Regions from separate parts of the Homo sapiens genome. Here region 1 is linked to region 2. The links come from fine-mapping of genetic effects on gene expression. A gene starts in region 2. The other region holds a variant in brackets. All regions are shown on one strand. Distances are between the middles of the regions. Region 1 overlaps MAPRE1 (microtubule associated protein RP/EB family member 1). Region 2 holds the start of MAPRE1 (microtubule associated protein RP/EB family member 1).

Region 1 (8,277 bases), 30 kb after region 2:
ATCTCCTTTTGGGTTAGAAGTCTGCCTGATATTTTATTGCCATACTAATGCCAAGCATCTCACCCTTTTTAATGTCTTGTGCAGGTCAACGTATTGAAACTTACTGTTGAAGACTTGGAGAAAGAGAGGGATTTCTACTTCGGAAAGCTACGGAACATTGAATTGATTTGCCAGGAGAACGAGGGGGAAAACGACCCTGTATTGCAGAGGATTGTAGACATTCTGTATGCCACAGATGTATGTGTTTGACATGAGGATATTTTCTTTCCATTTTACATAGAAGGGTTGGTGAACTCTGTGCTGATGCTTGTTGTATTCCAGTGTTGCATTCATCAAAAGACTTCATCTTTAACCCCTCAAAGTCAGCCAGAGGGCATCTCTGCCCAGCTTTAGCTTCTGCCTGAGGTCTGTGAGCTTTTGAAGAAGGAATAGGACAAGGAGGTGGCTGGCTTGCCCAGCATCTGTAGTATGTGGCCACTGATAGGTGATGAGTGCCACAAACTGCTCTTAGCCAGAAGCAACCCATGTCCTCACTCCACCCCACCTCCTATTGCTTGGATCCCTCAGCTTCAGTTGCTGCCTCCATTTTATCAGGGCCCGGGGCATGCCCGGAAAAGCAGGCACATGCTCCCTTTTTCACGGCGTGCCCACATATCACGTCATGTCTGGGTATGCCTTTCTCCTCCCTCCTAGGAGTTTGCCTGGTTCTCACTCCCTCAAAGTACTCTATGATCAAGTTTCTTTGGATCCATGTTTATTGCACAGTCAAATCTGTTGATATTAATCACGACATGTTAGTTGATCAGGGAAGACTCATTTTTTTCTAGATTTAGGATTGTTATCCGGCTGTGTCCACTGTTTAATGGTGATGTTTGTAATTCTGTGTGCCTAGCAAGGTCTGTAGGATCAAACTACAAACTTCTGGTAGTATGTGTAGCACTATGCAAATACAAGGTAGTAATAATGCTGTTACTGTCACTGTCCTTGAGACATATCTTGTGAATTTCAGGGGATTAAGACAGATGACTGAAAAGTTGATAATCTGTTGAATAAATCTTTAATTTAGAGCTTGCTCTGTGCTATGTAATGAAAAAAAGACAACGAAGATATAGGGGGTCCTTGGTTTAGTCTGAGTATTATTTTAGTGGAGCCACATCTTAAGTAAGTTCAGCTATAGAGATTTAGTTAATAGAAATAAGATGGTGGTTGAAAGAGAAGTCTGATTTTACAGCAGAATAGTATAGTAATTTCCTGCTCTGAGTCCATGCCAGAATGCCCTGTAGTGAGAATGAGGTGTGTGGGAGTCATGAATCTGCTTTTTCCTTGTGCACTCAATTTTTCTGCCACTGATGTTGGGTCAGTCTTGCTGTTGTGAATATTTTGGGTAAAGCATGGCTCCTAAGTATAACAAAAGGAAGGCATAAAAGGAAAGCTGGCTGCATAGACAGTTTATTGAGAGAAGATGTTAGAGTACTGAACTTTACAGGGGACTTCAGGAATTTTTGAGGGAAATTTTTTTTTTTTTTTAGTGACGGGGATCTCACTTTATTGCCCAGGCTGGAGTGCCTGGTGGTGCGATCATGGCTCACTGCAGCTTTGACCTCCTGGGTCAAGCAGTCCTGCCTCGACCCCGCTGGGGAGTAGCTGGGACTACAGGCATGTCCCACCAGGCTTGGCTAGTTTTTTTTTTTTTCGAGACATTGTCTCACTGTGTTACCCAGGCTGGTCTTGAACTTCTGGGCTCAAGCCTTGGCCTTCCAAAGTGCTAGGATTACAGGCATGAGCCATCACACCTGGCCTTCTTTCTTCTTTAAAAAACAGTTTTATTGAAGTATAACTGACATAATAAACTGCACATATTTAAAATGTACCTTTGATGACATGGGTGAAATTACCACCATAATGAAGACAATGTAAATATGCATCACTTTCAAAAGTTTGAGGGTAAATTTGACTGTGCTCAGTTTTTGTCTTTGGTGAGATGCAATTCTACTACCCAAGAAATAAAATAGCAGTCACCTGGCCTGTATAGAGCCAGGAAGAACCATTGTTTTTAAGAGGCTGTAAGTATGAGGAAAGTGAACTCACAGTAGAAATGGATCTTTCAGTGGCTTTCCCCTCTCATTTTCCTATTTCAGGAAGGCTTTGTGATACCTGATGAAGGGGGCCCACAGGAGGAGCAAGAAGAGTATTAACAGCCTGGACCAGCAGAGCAACATCGGAATTCTTCACTCCAAATCATGTGCTTAACTGTAAAATACTCCCTTTTGTTATCCTTAGAGGACTCACTGGTTTCTTTTCATAAGCAAAAAGTACCTCTTCTTAAAGTGCACTTTGCAGACGTTTCACTCCTTTTCCAATAAGTTTGAGTTAGGAGCTTTTACCTTGTAGCAGAGCAGTATTAACACCTAGTTGGTTCACCTGGAAAACAGAGAGGCTGACCGTGGGGCTCACCATGCGGATGCGGGTCACACTGAATGCTGGAGAGATGTTATGTAATATGCTGAGGTGGCGACCTCAGTGGAGAAATGTAAAGACTGAATTGAATTTTAAGCTAATGTGAAATCAGAGAATGTTGTAATAAGTAAATGCCTTAAGAGTATTTAAAATATGCTTCCACATTTCAAAATATAAAATGTAACATGACAAGAGATTTTGCGTTTGACATTGTGTCTGGGAAGGAAGGGCCAGACCTTGGAACCTTTGGAACCTGCTGTCAACAGGTCTTACAGGGCTGCTTGAACCCTCATAGGCCTAGGCTTTGGTCTAAAAGGAACATTTAAAAAGTTGCCCTGTAAAGTTATTTGGTGTCATTGACCAATTGCATCCCAGCTAAAAAGCAAGAGGCATCGTTGCCTGGATAATAGAGGATGTGTTTCAGCCCTGAGATGTTACAGTTGAAGAGCTTGGTTTTCATTGAGCATTTCTCTATTTTTCCAGTTATCCCCGAAATTTCTATGTATTATATTTTTTGGGGAAGTGAGGTGTGCCCAGTTTTTTAATCTAACAACTACTTTTGGGGACTTGCCCACATCTCTGGGATTTGAATGGGGATTGTATCCCATTTTACTGTCTTTTAGGTTTACATTTACCACGTTTCTCTTCTCTGCTCCCCTTGCCCACTGGGGACTCCTCTTTGGCTCCTTGAAGTTTGCTGCTTAGAGTTGGAAGTGCAGCAGGCAGGTGATCATGCTGCAAGTTCTTTCTGGACCTCTGGCAAAGGGAGTGGTCAGTGAAGGCCATCGTTACCTTGGGATCTGCCAGGCTGGGGTGTTTTCGGTATCTGCTGTTCACAGCTCTCCACTGTAATCCGAATACTTTGCCAGTGCACTAATCTCTTTGGAGATAAAATTCATTAGTGTGTTACTAAATGTTAATTTTCTTTTGCGGAAAATACAGTACCGTGTCTGAATTAATTATTAATATTTAAAATACTTCATTCCTTAACTCTCCCTCATTTGCTTTGCCCACAGCCTATTCAGTTCCTTTGTTTGGCAGGATTCTGCAAAATGTGTCTCACCCACTACTGAGATTGTTCAGCCCCTGATGTATTTGTATTGATTTGTTTCTGGTGGTAGCTTGTCCTGAAATGTGTGTAGAAAGCAAGTATTTTATGATAAAAATGTTGTGTAGTGCATGCTCTGTGTGGAATTCAGAGGAAAACCCAGATTCAGTGATTAACAATGCCAAAAAATGCAAGTAACTAGCCATTGTTCAAATGACAGTGGTGCTATTTCTCTTTTGTGGCCTTTTAGACTTTTGTTGCCCTAAAATTCCATTTTATTGGGAACCCATTTTCCACCTGGTCTTTCTTGACAGGGTTTTTTTCTACTTTAAACAGTTTCTAAATAAAATTCTGTATTTCAAGAGTATCATGTCTTCTGAAATTTGTCTTGCCCTGGGTATATGCTGTTAGGTTCAAGTGATGGGAAACCAGTGCTTCTTTCTTCAGTGAGGACTGATCTTTTCACATCCTTTACTGATTTTTCAGATGTGCTTATTTCTTCTTCTTCTTCTTTTTTTTTTTTTTTTTTTTGAGATGGAGTCTTGGTCTGTCGCCCAGGCTGGAGTGCAGTGGCATGATCTCGGCTCACTGCAACCTCTGCCTCCCAGGTTCAAACAGTTCTCTGCCTCAGCCTCCCAAGTAGCTGGGATTATAGGCACCCACCACCACGCCCGGCTAATTTTTGTGTATTTTTAGTAGAGATGGGGTTTCACCATCTTGGCCAGGCTGATCTTGAACTCCTGACCTCGTGGTCCACCCACCTCAGCCTCCCAAAGTGCTGGGATTACAGGCGTAAGCCACCGTGCTCGGTCAGATGTGCTTATTTCTAAGCTGACTTCTTTTTTCTTCATTCACATTATATTGTACAGCCTCCTGCTTTTTAAAATTCTCGTTGCTGTAAGAGGTTTTTCCTCTCGGAAGTCCAAGGCCTGGCCTATCTGCTGTGAAGCCTTTTCAGGGCATTTCCTTCTGAGAAATATAGCAGGACAGTGCTTGGCAGATGACTGTGGGGAGATTTTTTTTTTTTTTTTTTCTGAAGGTGTGATTCTTTCTTCCTTTCTTTTTTGAGACAGGGTCTCCCTCTGTTGCCCAGTCTGGAGTGCAGTGGC[A/G]TGATCTTGGCTCACTGCAGCCTTGCCCTCTTGGGTTCAAGCGATCCTCCCACCTCAGCCTCGTGAGTAGTGGGGACTACAGGCATGCACCACCATGCCCAGCTAAACTTTGTATTTTTTGTAGAGATGGGGTCCCCTTATGTTGCCCAGGCTTGTCTTGAACTCCTGGGCTCAAGTGATCCTCCCACCTTGACCTCCTAAAGTGCTGGGATTACAGGTGTGAGCCACTGCACCCAGCCCTGAAAGTATGTTTCAAAGTCAGTTAACATGATCTTAATCTATAAAATAATCTAAAATTGTCACCATTTTTTTCTCCCTTATAAAATTATATGCTATTAGAAATGAGTTCAAAAGGAGACTTGCTGCCATTTTCTGTCAGAAATAAAGTTAAATGGGCAGAGATAGTGTGTTGTAGGATATGTAGAGTCATGGTTATGGATGCTCTATAAACCCAACCTGATGATCTTGACAAGGGTTGCACCCATAGTTAATGGTATGATACCTCCCTTAAAGTGTTAAATACCTTCAGAAGGAATTTGACACCATATGTATTGGTCATCTACAAGAAGATACCTTCCAGGAGTGCAAGGAGTTTGTGAAGATACTGTTGGCTACTGTCAATTGAGAAGTTACCTTGGTAAAGAGAGAAGCCAAAACTGTGGGTATCTGACCAAGTGCATTGACCTGGCTCTTGAATTTGAAGCACATACAGTCTTTGCTGCTTGGTTTGCTTGGCAGGTTCTGTGTTTCATGAAGGATAGGTAAACAAATGGGTTCTCTGGCTCAATTTGGATCATTGTTCATGCTGATGATTCTCAAACTGATGGGCTTCAGAATCACATGGGGAACTTGTTTGACATAATGTATTTATAAAAATTCATCACCAGAGATTCTGAGTTTGGAGGTTGAAAACCTGCATTTTAATTTGGGCCTTATCTACATGTCTGCAATTTTAAATAATAATTCTGGCAAGGGGAACATCAGACTTGAGTCCTCTTGCAGGTCTCTCCTGCTTTGTGAGTTTTGAGCTATTTGACCTCTCTTGTTCTTACATGCAAGACAGAGATGATGATTTTGGCTGACGTGCCTCCCTCACTGGGTACTTGTTGGGATTAGAAGGAGCTGATGGACCAAAAAAAAACAGCACCACAAAGCTAAAAAGCTCTGTACAGACAAGAGGCATTATTTATGGCACAAGTTCTTCAGATCTGGTCTGAAATTCTGTTTATAGATTAGAAAAAGCTTAGGACAGGGCTTTTGTATCCTCAGAATTCGGAAGGGCATTCCTTCAGACAGGCTTTGGGTGTTTTGTAAAATACACCCAAAGTATTTCCTTTTCAGCATGGTATATGGACAAGTAGAACTCCCTTATGTCTTCAGGCTCTTATGTTTATCCTGTTTTTGTTTTCTTTTAAATGAAGATTCAATGTCTCAGATTCATTGATTAAAAACCCATATTTTCTTCAAGATTTACTCTCTAGAATGTGAAGGGTTTTGAAAAGGAAGCATTTTTCTTTTGCCCTAGCCAAGGTGATCCTCTGTAGTTTTTCTTTTAAGGATTGTTTTAGAAGATTGAGTATAAAGGACTCCTTTTGTGATGTTGACCATAGTTCATTGCAAAGTCCACAAATAAAAATCCAAGCTTTAGGCCTGATCAGCCTAGTCAGATTAGCTTGCTAGCATGTGGGTGACCCAAATCTGATTGTTGACAACAGAGAACATTGCTTTGAAACAAGCTGAACCTCAGTCTGTGATCAGTGTTGTGAACCACCCGTCATTTTTCTGGTCTGGCACTGTTGTAATATGTCTTTTTTTTTTTTTTTTTTTTTTCCCCAGACAGTCTTGCTCTGTCACCCAGGCTGGAGTGCAGTGGCACGATCTTGGCTCACTGCAACCTCCACCTCCCAGGCTGAAGCAGTTCCCGTACCTCAGCCTCCTGAGTAGCTGGGATTACAGGCCTGTGCCACTATGCCTGGCTAATTTTTGTATTTTCAGTAGAGATGGAGTTTTGCCATGTTGCCCAAGGTAGTCTCGAACTCCTGGCCTCAAGTGATCCACCTGTCTTGGCCTCCCAAAGTGCTGGGATTACAGGTGTGAGCCACCACTCCCTGCTTGATATCATACTTTTGGATTCACACATTTAGTTTGTAAAATGTCAAAACCAGATGAGTTCATATTTATTTCTGTATCTTCATGACGCTTGCTGCTTTTTTTCTCTTCATTTTCACATGCGAGGGTATAACTGAGTGTTCAGGGTTTTCTCTGAAAGCCTGAAGGGATTGTGTACTTTTACATTGAACTTGACTGCAGTTAGAACCATTAACCTAGATGACTTCAGCCAAATTATGTATTGTTTTTGTTTTTGTTTTTTTGAGACAGGGTCTCCTGTCACCCAGGCTGGAGTGCAGTGGCACAGTCATGGCTCATGACAGCCTCAACTTCCTGGGCTTCAGCTGTCCTCCCACCTCAACCTCCATAGTAGCTGGGACTGTAGTGCACACCACCATGCCTGGCTGGCTAATTTTTTTTTTTTTTTTTTTTTTGAGACAGAGTTTCATTCTTGTTGCCCAGGTTGGAGTACAGTGGTGCCATCTTGGCTCACTGCAACCTCCGCCTCCTGGGTTCAAGCGAGTCTCCTGCCTCAACCTCGAGAGTAGCTGGGATTACAGGCGCCCACCACCACACCCAGCTAATTTTTGTGTTTTTAGTAGAGACGGGGTTTTGCCATGTTAGCCAGGCTGGTCTGGAACTCCTGACCTCAGGTGATCCACCTGCCTCGGCCTCCCAAAGTGCTGGGATTACAGGCGTGAGCCACCATGCCCGGCCAATTTTTTGGTATTTTTTGTAGAGACGGGGTTTGCTATATTGCAGGCTGGTCTTGAACCCCTGGGCTCAAACAATTTACCCATCTCTTCCTCCCCAAATGCTGGGAGGTGTGAGTCACTGTGCCTGGCCCAAATTGCTATATAGCCGTGACTTGTGAAGGTCTGTTCCCCCTTTGGTTTAATCTGATTTGGGAAGTAATGTTACCTTAGTCCTTGGAGTGCAGAAGCTTTCTCTGTACTCTATTGAGGTTGTATCCAGTAGCTTCATTAATTTGGTTATCTAGGTGAGCAGGTCAAGCCTTAGAGTCAAATTTCTAGGCTCCTCAATCTAGAACCTTAAATCTTGAGGTGCGTGTGTGTATCAAAATTGTAAATAACTCTCGTTTCCTTGTATTGGAGGCTCTCAGGTTCTGAAATGTGAAATGGAAATAGCCTTCATAGACACGTTTCTGAGTGTGAGGAGGCAGTTCTTTGTCCTGTGACCATTTGAAAGCAAACCAGGTTACCCACCAATGCCTAGAACTTTGTAAGTGGCATCAAGATATAAATTTATAATTGTAAAATAACCTATCAGCAGTTTGGGGCTGGGTGTCATGGCTCATGCCTGTAATCCCAGCACTTTGGGAGGCCAGTGCAGAAGGATTGCTTGAGCCCAGGAGTTTGAAACTAGCCTGGGCAACATAGCAAGAGACCCTGTCTCTATTTAAAAGATTTTATATATATATATGATCATATATAATATATATAAGATATATATGATCATATATATAATATATATATATATGATCATATATATCTTATATATATATATGCAGTTTGGAATTCTATTTGTCTTGCC
Region 2 (8,338 bases):
GATCCGCCCACCTTGGCCTCCCAAAGTGCTGGGATTACAGAGCCATCATGCCACTGCACCCGGCCTAGAGGCTTTTCCTGATTTGGTTTTCTACACTGATCTCATCCCCCATACTAATGTCCTCACTCCAGACCAAAATGGCCTGCAGGTAATGCTGATACCAATTAATTGACATAATTTAATAACTGACTTTAGACGAAAGGACTCAGAAATCACATTTATTGAGCACATACTATGTGCTAGGCGCAGTCTGATAACTTTATACACTTCCCATTTAATTCTAACAGAATTTGAACCCAGACATACTGGCTTCGCCGTTTATTATTTAGCCTAATGAAAAGTTAATGTCTTTGTGGATAAAACAGAGGTGGCTGGGTGTGGTGGCTCACGCTTGTAATCCCAGCACTTTAGGAGGCCAAGGTGGGCGGATCACGAGGTCAGGAGTTTGAGACCAGCCTGGCCAATATGGTGAAACCCTGTCTCTACTAAAAATACAAAAATTAGCCGGGCATGGTGGTGTGTGCCTGGAATCCCATCTACTCAGGAGGCTGAGGCAGGAGAATGGCTTGAACCCAGGAGGCGGAGGTTGCAGTGAGCCGAGATCACACAATTCCACTCCAGCCTGGGCGACAGAGTGTCTCTGTTTCTTCGTTTTTTAAAAAGAATATAAATAAATAAAATACAGGTAACAGATGTTGCATCAAAGCACTTATAAATATCTTTAGTTGATTATCTATGCTTGACATCAGCTCACCATAATGTTCATATTACTGCTGTCGCTATAATCATTTGTTACATGGTTTTTTATTCTTTATTGTTGCCTCTTTTTTTTTCTTTTTCTTTTCTTTTTTTTTTTTTTTTGAGTTGGAGTCTTGCTCTTTTGCCCAGGCTGGAGTGCAATGGTGCCATCTCGGCTCATTGCAACGTCCACCTCCTGGGTTCAAGCAATTCTCCTGCCTGAGCCTCTCGAGTAGTTGGGATTATAGGTGTCCGCCACCATGCCCAGCTAATTTTTGTATTTTTAGTAGAGACGGGGTTTCACCATGTTGGCCAGGCTGTTCTCCAACTCCTGACCTCGTGATTTGCCGACCTCAGCCTTCCGAAGTGCTGGAATTACAGGCACGAGCCACCGCGCCTGGCTTTTCTTGCCTTTTTTTGCTCAAACTCTGTTTTTTTTTTTTCTTTGAGACAGAGTCTTGCTCTATCACCCAGGCGGGAGTGCAGTGGCACGATCTCAGCTCACTGCAACCTCCACCTCCTGGGTTCAACCAATTCTCCTGCTCCATCCTCCCAAGTAGCTGGGATTACAGGCGCGCGCCACCACGCCCAACTAATTTTTGCATTTTTAGTAGAGACGGGGTTTCACCACGTTGGTCAGGCTAGTCTCAGACTCTTGACCTCGTGATCCGCCCACCTCGGCCTCCCAAAGTGCTGGGATTACAGGCATGAGCCACCACAACTGGCCTTGCTCAAACTCTTTTGCCAAGGTAACTCCTCATCTTTCATGGTAAGTGTCATTTCTGGGAAGCTTTTCCACACTACCTAGGAGAGGTCATGTCTCTTGTGGTGTGCTCTTGGAGCAGTACTCGAGACCGAAGTATTGAAATGCCTCTAGACCTGCTGATAAACAGCTCCTGCCCCAGCTTCCCCACCCATTCTTCCCTGAACGTCTTACTGGGTTTCAGCAACTAACTGGGTGAGATTTGGCCTAGAGGGACCTCTAGGCCCCTGCTCCACACAGTGGAAGTACCATCAGCCCACCACATAATGTCCCTGCCTAGCATTGAGCCTGATTTGTAATTTAACAAGGATTTGTGTCATTAGTTGTGTCCCCTTTGCCTCCCCTGCCAGTCTGGAAACTTTAAGAGGTCAGAAGCTGTGTCTAGTTTTCGTTTTTATCTCTTAGAGATGGAGTTTCACTCTGTTTCCCAGGCCTGGAGTGCAGTGGCGTGATCTTTGCTCACTGCAGCCTCGAACTCCTGGGCTCAAGCGATCCTCCTGCCCCAGCCTTCCCAGTAGCTGGAACTAAAGGCACGTACCACCATGATCAGATTGTGTCTTTTTTTCACCAGGGCCTGATTGGTCAGGGAAAATATTTGTTGAATACTTGAATAAATGATACCCAGACAAAAAAAGTCAGCTTGAAATCTGGATCTACCTCTGACACTGAGTGAGTCAATTGGCCTCTTTGTCCCTCAGTTTCTTTCTGCTGTAAAGTGGTGCAGTTCCTCTTTTTTTCTTTTTTAGACGAAGTCTGACTGCAACCTCTGCCTCCCAGGTTCAAGTGATTCTCCTGCCTCAGCCTCCCAAGTAGCTGGGATTACAGGCGCCCACCACCATGCCCGGCTAAGTTTTGCATTTTTAGTAGAGATGGGGTTTCGCCATGTTGGACAGGCTGGTTTCCAACTCCTGACCTCAGGTAATTCATCCGCCTTGGCCTCCCAAAGTGTTGGGATTACAGGTGTGAGCCACCACGCCCAGCCCAGTTCCTCCTTCAGCCAAGGCTCTCTTGAGAATGTAAGGGCCAGGTGTGGTGGCTCACGCCTGTAATCCCAGCACTTTGGGAGGCCGATGCGGGTGGATCTCTCGAGCCCAGGAGACCAGCCCAGCCTGGGCAACATGGCAAGACCCCATCTCTTAAAAAAAAAAAAAAAAAAAAGAGGGAGTGGGCAAGAGAGAATGTATGTACAGCCATTGGGAAACAACCCGGAACAGGACTCAGGAGGTCCTTGCTCCTGTGGACTTTACAGGAGACAGACAGTAAAGGCACAAGATGCCTTCTTATGGTACTAAGAAGAAAATATGCCGCATGATATTGCAGATGGGGGGGCGGGGGCGTCACAGAACGTGACTTTTTTTTTTTTTTTTTGAGACAGAGTCTTGCTCTGTCGCCCAGACTGGAGTGCAGTGGTGCAGTCTCGCCTCACTGCCACCTCCGTCTCCTGGGTTCAAGTGATTCTCCTGCCTCAGCTTCCCAAGTAGCTGGAATTACAGGCGCCCACCACCACGCCAGGCTAATTTTTGTATTTTTAGTAGAGATGGGGTTTCACTATGTTGGCCAGGCTGGTCTCAAACTCCTGACCTCAGGTGATCCTCCCACCTGGGCCTCCCAAAGTGCTGGGATTAAAGGCGTGAGCCACTGCACCCGGCCCAGAAAGTTGACTTCTAAGCGTTTCCCCAAAGTGTCTATTAGGTATCTTTATGATTCAATAACCCATTCTTACAGAAATTAATTGTAAGCCTGGGAGCGGTGGCTCACGCCTGTTATCCCAGCGCTTTGGGAGGCTAAGGCGGGAGGATCGCTTGAGGCCAAGAGTTCGAGACCACCCTGGGCAACACAGCGAGACCTCCATACATCTCTAAGCAAAAAAAAAAAAAAATTCATTGTAAAAGCAATTTTCTTTTTGGTTACTGCCATAGGGATTTTGTAACTGAGTCACACCGGGCCGAGGCGGGACCTCATTGGCTGCGACCGACCACGTGCCGCAGTCGCCCCGGCGGTCGGGGCCCCGCCCCTCGGCTACCGTTCTGTGGATCAGGGGCCGAGCTCCGCCCCCGGCGCGCGGCTGAGACCCTCTCTATAAAAGGAGCCGGCGGAGGATGGCGAGCCTTTACGTCGGCGCGTAACGAGGGGGTGCGTGTGAGGTCATCGCGCGGGCGGGCGGGCGGGGTCTGGCGGTTTGAACGAGACGAAGACGGAACCGGAGCCGGTTGCGGGCAGTGGACGCGGTTCTGCCGAGAGCCGGTGAGCCGGCTAGCGGGCCCGGGGGGTGCGGCTGGGGGGGCGGCCGCGTGGGCCAAGGCCGGGCGTGCGCGGGCAGGCCCTACGGGCAGCGCCAGGGCCGTTCCACACGGCGGTGCTGTTCGAGCCGGGTGGGGGAAGGGCGGGGCCGTCACCCGGCGCGCGCGGGCTGGGCCTGGGGGCGCGCGCTGCGCTCTGCTCAGGGGGCGGGGTCTCGGGCCGGAAGTGGGCTGCTGCTACGCGGGGTGGGGGTTTCTGGGCCGCCGCTGAGGTGTGGTCCCTGCGCTGCAGCGACTGGAGGTCCCAGGGTGGTTGGGCCCTGGGAGGGTGTGGGCGAGGTGGGCCGTCCTGGGAGCTCTGGGGACGCACATTGTGGGAGGCCGTGTTGCCTGAGGGCCGAGAGATCGGGTGGTGGAGTCAGACCTGGGTTGGGTTCCGTGCGGTGTGACCTTGGACAGGTGCTTTAACCGCTGTGGATCTCAGCTTCCTCATCTGTAAAACGGGGACAGTAATACTACCCACATTAAACTCTTAGCGCGATGTATGGCAGAAAGTAAGCCAGCTCTTGGACTCCCTCCTTTCTTCAGTGTGTGTTTATTGAATGCCCACTAGGTGTTGGGCACCGTGCTAAACCCTGGCTGTTTTCCCGGGAACAAAGATTTGCTCTCCAGGAATCCACATTATGATGAGCAGGAGGACAGTATAACGGGATGGTATCAACAGTGCTAGTTCAGTCCCTACTTCACAGTTGCCCTCGGATGCTGCAGGGCAGAGCTTGACCTCTGCCCCATTTTGGGGATGAGGATCCTGGGGCCCATTGAGGGAGGTTATGCTAGGCCGGGCATCCGCTTCTCCGATGGCATGTCTCTAACAGTAGTAATGATAATAGCAGCTCTTTGTTAGTTGGGCACTTGTTTTGTGTCAAGCACTGTTAAGTGCTCCATGTGGCTTTGTGTCTTTTAATACTAACACTGTCTTTAAGAGAGATTCTCTTCTTCCTTTTTTTTTTTTTTTTGAGACAGAGTTTTATTCTGTTGCCCAGGCGTGCAGTGGCACCATCGCTCACTGCAACCTCCGCCTCCCGGGTTCAAGCGATTCTCGTGCCTCAGCCTCCCGAGTAGTCGGGATTACAGGCGCGCGCCACCAAGCCCGGCTAATTGTTGTATTTTTTAGTAGAGACGAGGTTTCGCCATGTTGGCCAGGCTGTTGTCGAACTCCTGACCTCAAGTGATCTGTCCGCCTCGGCCTCCAAAGTGTTGGGATTACAGGTGTGAGCCACCGCGCCTGGCAAGAGAGATTACTTTCATTTTACAAATAAGGGGTCTGAGACTCTGAGAGGCGGAGTGTCTTATGCAGCCCAGCAAGTGGCTGAACCCCCACCTGGGACTTCAGTGTCTAGGCTCTTAACCTCTTTATTACACTTTCTCCCTGAGGTCCAGAGCTACACATCCAGATGTGCCCTTTGTGGTGGTGCGTCAAAGTGCCTAGCACAGTTTTTGGCACAGAGGGAAGCTTAGGACGTGATGTGCCTTTTGCTTAAGTGTTTTCATGTAGATTTTTGTTTAATCCTTACCACCACTTTGTGCAGAGATACTGTTTTACCCATTTTACAGGATGAGCCATTTGTGATGCAGGAAGATTAAGTGACTTGCCCACGGTCACATAGGTCCTTTCTGGTGGCACCTCCTTCCCCCACTTTACATAGGGCTTATTGTGGTGCCTTGAAAGTAATAGAGTGCTTTAGAGCCAGCGTTGAATTTGTATAGGTTTGGGATCTTGCTAGGAGAGCTGCTGAAGGAAGAGAGATTCCTGGGTAGGTTTGAGGGAGCTTTTTCATGGTGGTGGTGGAAACCTGGATCAGGAAGCCTTGTAAGGGTGAGATTTGTGTGGTAGTCATGGGTCTTCCATGGCTGCCAATGATGGAATTGTGAAGGAAGGGTGAGCTGGAGCTCTGTTTTGATTGTCAGGAGGAGCCAATTAATTGATTGAGTCGGTGGATGTTCATTGTACATCCACAGGGTGCCTAATCCATGTATTTAGTGGCTGCAGCGTTTGTGGAGCACGTGGGACCAGGTATTAATGTACTGCTAATGAAAGTTTTAAATTATATGATGATGAAAGGCCATTAATGTTTTTTGAGCTGGGGTGTGGTCAGGAGACACACATGGCTTTACCAGCTGCTTAGATTTTATAGCAGCATGATGCACACGATACAGTATATATAGGAATGTCGCCATAATAGATTACAATTGCTCAGCTGGGACCATGTCTTTTTTGTTTGAATGTCTCTGGTACCTGATTTTGCGCACAGTATTTTGTTCATTCAAGGATTTTAAACAAGGGAGGCACTTGCTGTGATTTGTGATTCAGGAAATTCTCTCTGGTTTGCTGTGTAAGAACAGATTGACACAGACAAATTTGAAGACTGTTGCAGTGCATCTCCGTGCAAGATGGTGCTGGCAGGTCTCAGGCGCACTGTTTTTGGCATTGGAGATAGGAGGATGAGTGAGACAAGGTCCCTACCCTACATCTTGTTTGTTAAATACCTCTTAAATTTGATGCCATGCCAAATATTTTATGTACCTTATCTAATTTAAACCCTTCTATGACCCTTTTCAGATAGGTGGCTTTAACTTGTAAGGGAACTGAGGTACATTGAGTTTAAGTAACTTGCCTAAGATCACACAACTAATGAGTGACTGCCTCACATTCAAACCCATGTCCTCCTGGCTTGAAATCCTCAGCTGTTTGCATCGAGTGGATTGCTTCCTGGCCCAAATCTGGCTCGAGAATGGTTCAGAAATAACGAGATAATGACAATTCATTGTGGGACTTCCTATCATAAAGGTTTGAATGAATTGCTCTGGAAACATAGGGATTAATTTCCCAGTGGAGTCAGTAACTAAATTGTGTTGGTGTCTTGCATAACATGGTTTTATCAGCTGATTTGGGGAGTGTAACAGTGTTGATGATTTGCTTTCTGACAAGTTTATATAGACACATTTTTCTCTCTTTGACGCTGTTCTGCCAACCTGAAAATAAGTAGTGAGTGCTTGCTATGTGCAAGATACTATGAGGTGCCTGGGAGATGTGAGGGCACGCAGACCTGGCAAGTTATTGACCTCTACAGACCTCAGTCACCCCATAAAAAGGGGACTGGATGGGTGGATTTGCCTCTTCTGGCTGTCACATTCTGTGGCTTGGTGAGTCAGGAGGCTTGCAGCAGCTTAGTGCAGGAGACTGATGTGGAAAGACCAACTCTAGTCACTAGGTGGAGGGAACGAAGTACCGTAAGAGAGCAAGGGGCTGGGATCTCAGGATTGTTCCAGATTGCTCTGCATCTTTCCCCTGCCCCTCCCCACTGGTAATGTTGCTGTCTTATGAAATGAAGAAAATTGTTAAGTGTCTAGGTCACTATGAAGTCTCTGGTATTTCATAGTGTGTCCTCATGGTGACTGCTCAGGGATTTGATTTAGATCTGGATTAGCCTGCCTTTATCTTGAGTCTTCCCTCCCTACTGTCTGTTCTCTACTAGTAGTCAATGTGATCTTTTTCAAACTGTAATGAGAGCAAGATTCTACCGCACTTAAAACCTGAAAGTGCCTGGGTGTGGTGGCTCATGCCTGTAATCCCAGCACCTTGGGAGGCTGAGGCGGAGGATTGTTTGAGGCTGGGCCGCAAAATGAGACCTGGTCTCTACAAAAAATTAAAAAATTAGCTGGGCTTGGTGGTGACCATCTGTAGTCCCAGCTACTTGGGAAGATGAGTCAAGAGGATGGCTTGAGCCTGGGAAGTCAGGGCTGCAGTGAGCCGTGATTGTGGCATTGCACTCCAGCCTGGGTGACAGAGTGACACCCTGCCTCAAAAAACAAACCCAACAGTGGATTTCTTAATAGAATAAAATCCTAACTCCTTCTGTTCCCACCTCAGGCTCTGCTCTCCTTGCTCACTGGGCTGGAGAGCCCTATCTCTAGAGCTTCATGTGGTTGCTTCTTTCTCTGATCCTTAAGCTCAACTGTTCATCTCAGAGAGGCTTCCTCTGACCACATTCCGTAAACCCCGTTGCATAAGTGGTTGGTATGAAATGATGTTTGTTGGTGTATTTGGTCAGTGTCAGACTTTGCACCACTAGAATGTGAACTCCCTGTGGACAGGCACCTTGTCTCTTGCTTTTCTGTATCCTGGTCCCTAGAACAGTGCCTAGCACGCGGTAGAGCTAGTAAACATTTGTAGAATGAGTGACGGTTGACTACACTGGTGCTCATAGACAATAACGCCCACATTTACTAGCATTTGAAAATTAGACTCATTGCTGTGTGTTTATTGTTTTGAATTTGAAAGCCTAGCAGAAAAGGGAGGGAAGAGAATGTGGAGGCTGGGGCTGGGCAGGCTTGCCTGCCAACCCCAGGGCCTCTCTTGTCCTCACCTGTAAAATGAGGGACATGAAGTGAACCTTGCAGAGGGCTGTCAGGGTTAAACAACAAGTGTCTGTGAAGTATCTGGCACTTAGGCCCACAGATGCCCTACCATTGCCAGGTAGCTCTGCAGAGAATTAACTACAAGGATTCTTCACCTGTAAGGTCATTTGATACTGCC

Evidence for each region. PIP is the estimated chance that this variant, and not a neighbour inherited with it, causes the effect.
Region 1: its variant is fine-mapped to the expression of MAPRE1 in sun-exposed skin (GTEx, PIP above 0.99).

What each region holds. Positions count from the first base shown.
Region 1 is chr20:32,846,534-32,854,810 of GRCh38, forward strand. It overlaps MAPRE1 (microtubule associated protein RP/EB family member 1), which reads left to right. Exons shown (of 7, transcript NM_012325.3): 6 at 85-237; 7 at 2,139-3,872. The coding sequence ends at 2,195. Among named protein-coding and RNA genes, the nearest start is that of EFCAB8, 8.3 kb to the right of the region's middle. The variant A/G (reference allele first, on the strand shown) is at 4,615.
Region 2 is chr20:32,816,284-32,824,621 of GRCh38, forward strand. MAPRE1 (microtubule associated protein RP/EB family member 1) reads left to right here and starts at 3,671. Exons shown (of 7, transcript NM_012325.3): 1 at 3,671-3,745. RefSeq lists a silencer at 3,388-3,977 and enhancers at 4,050-4,719, 4,720-5,389.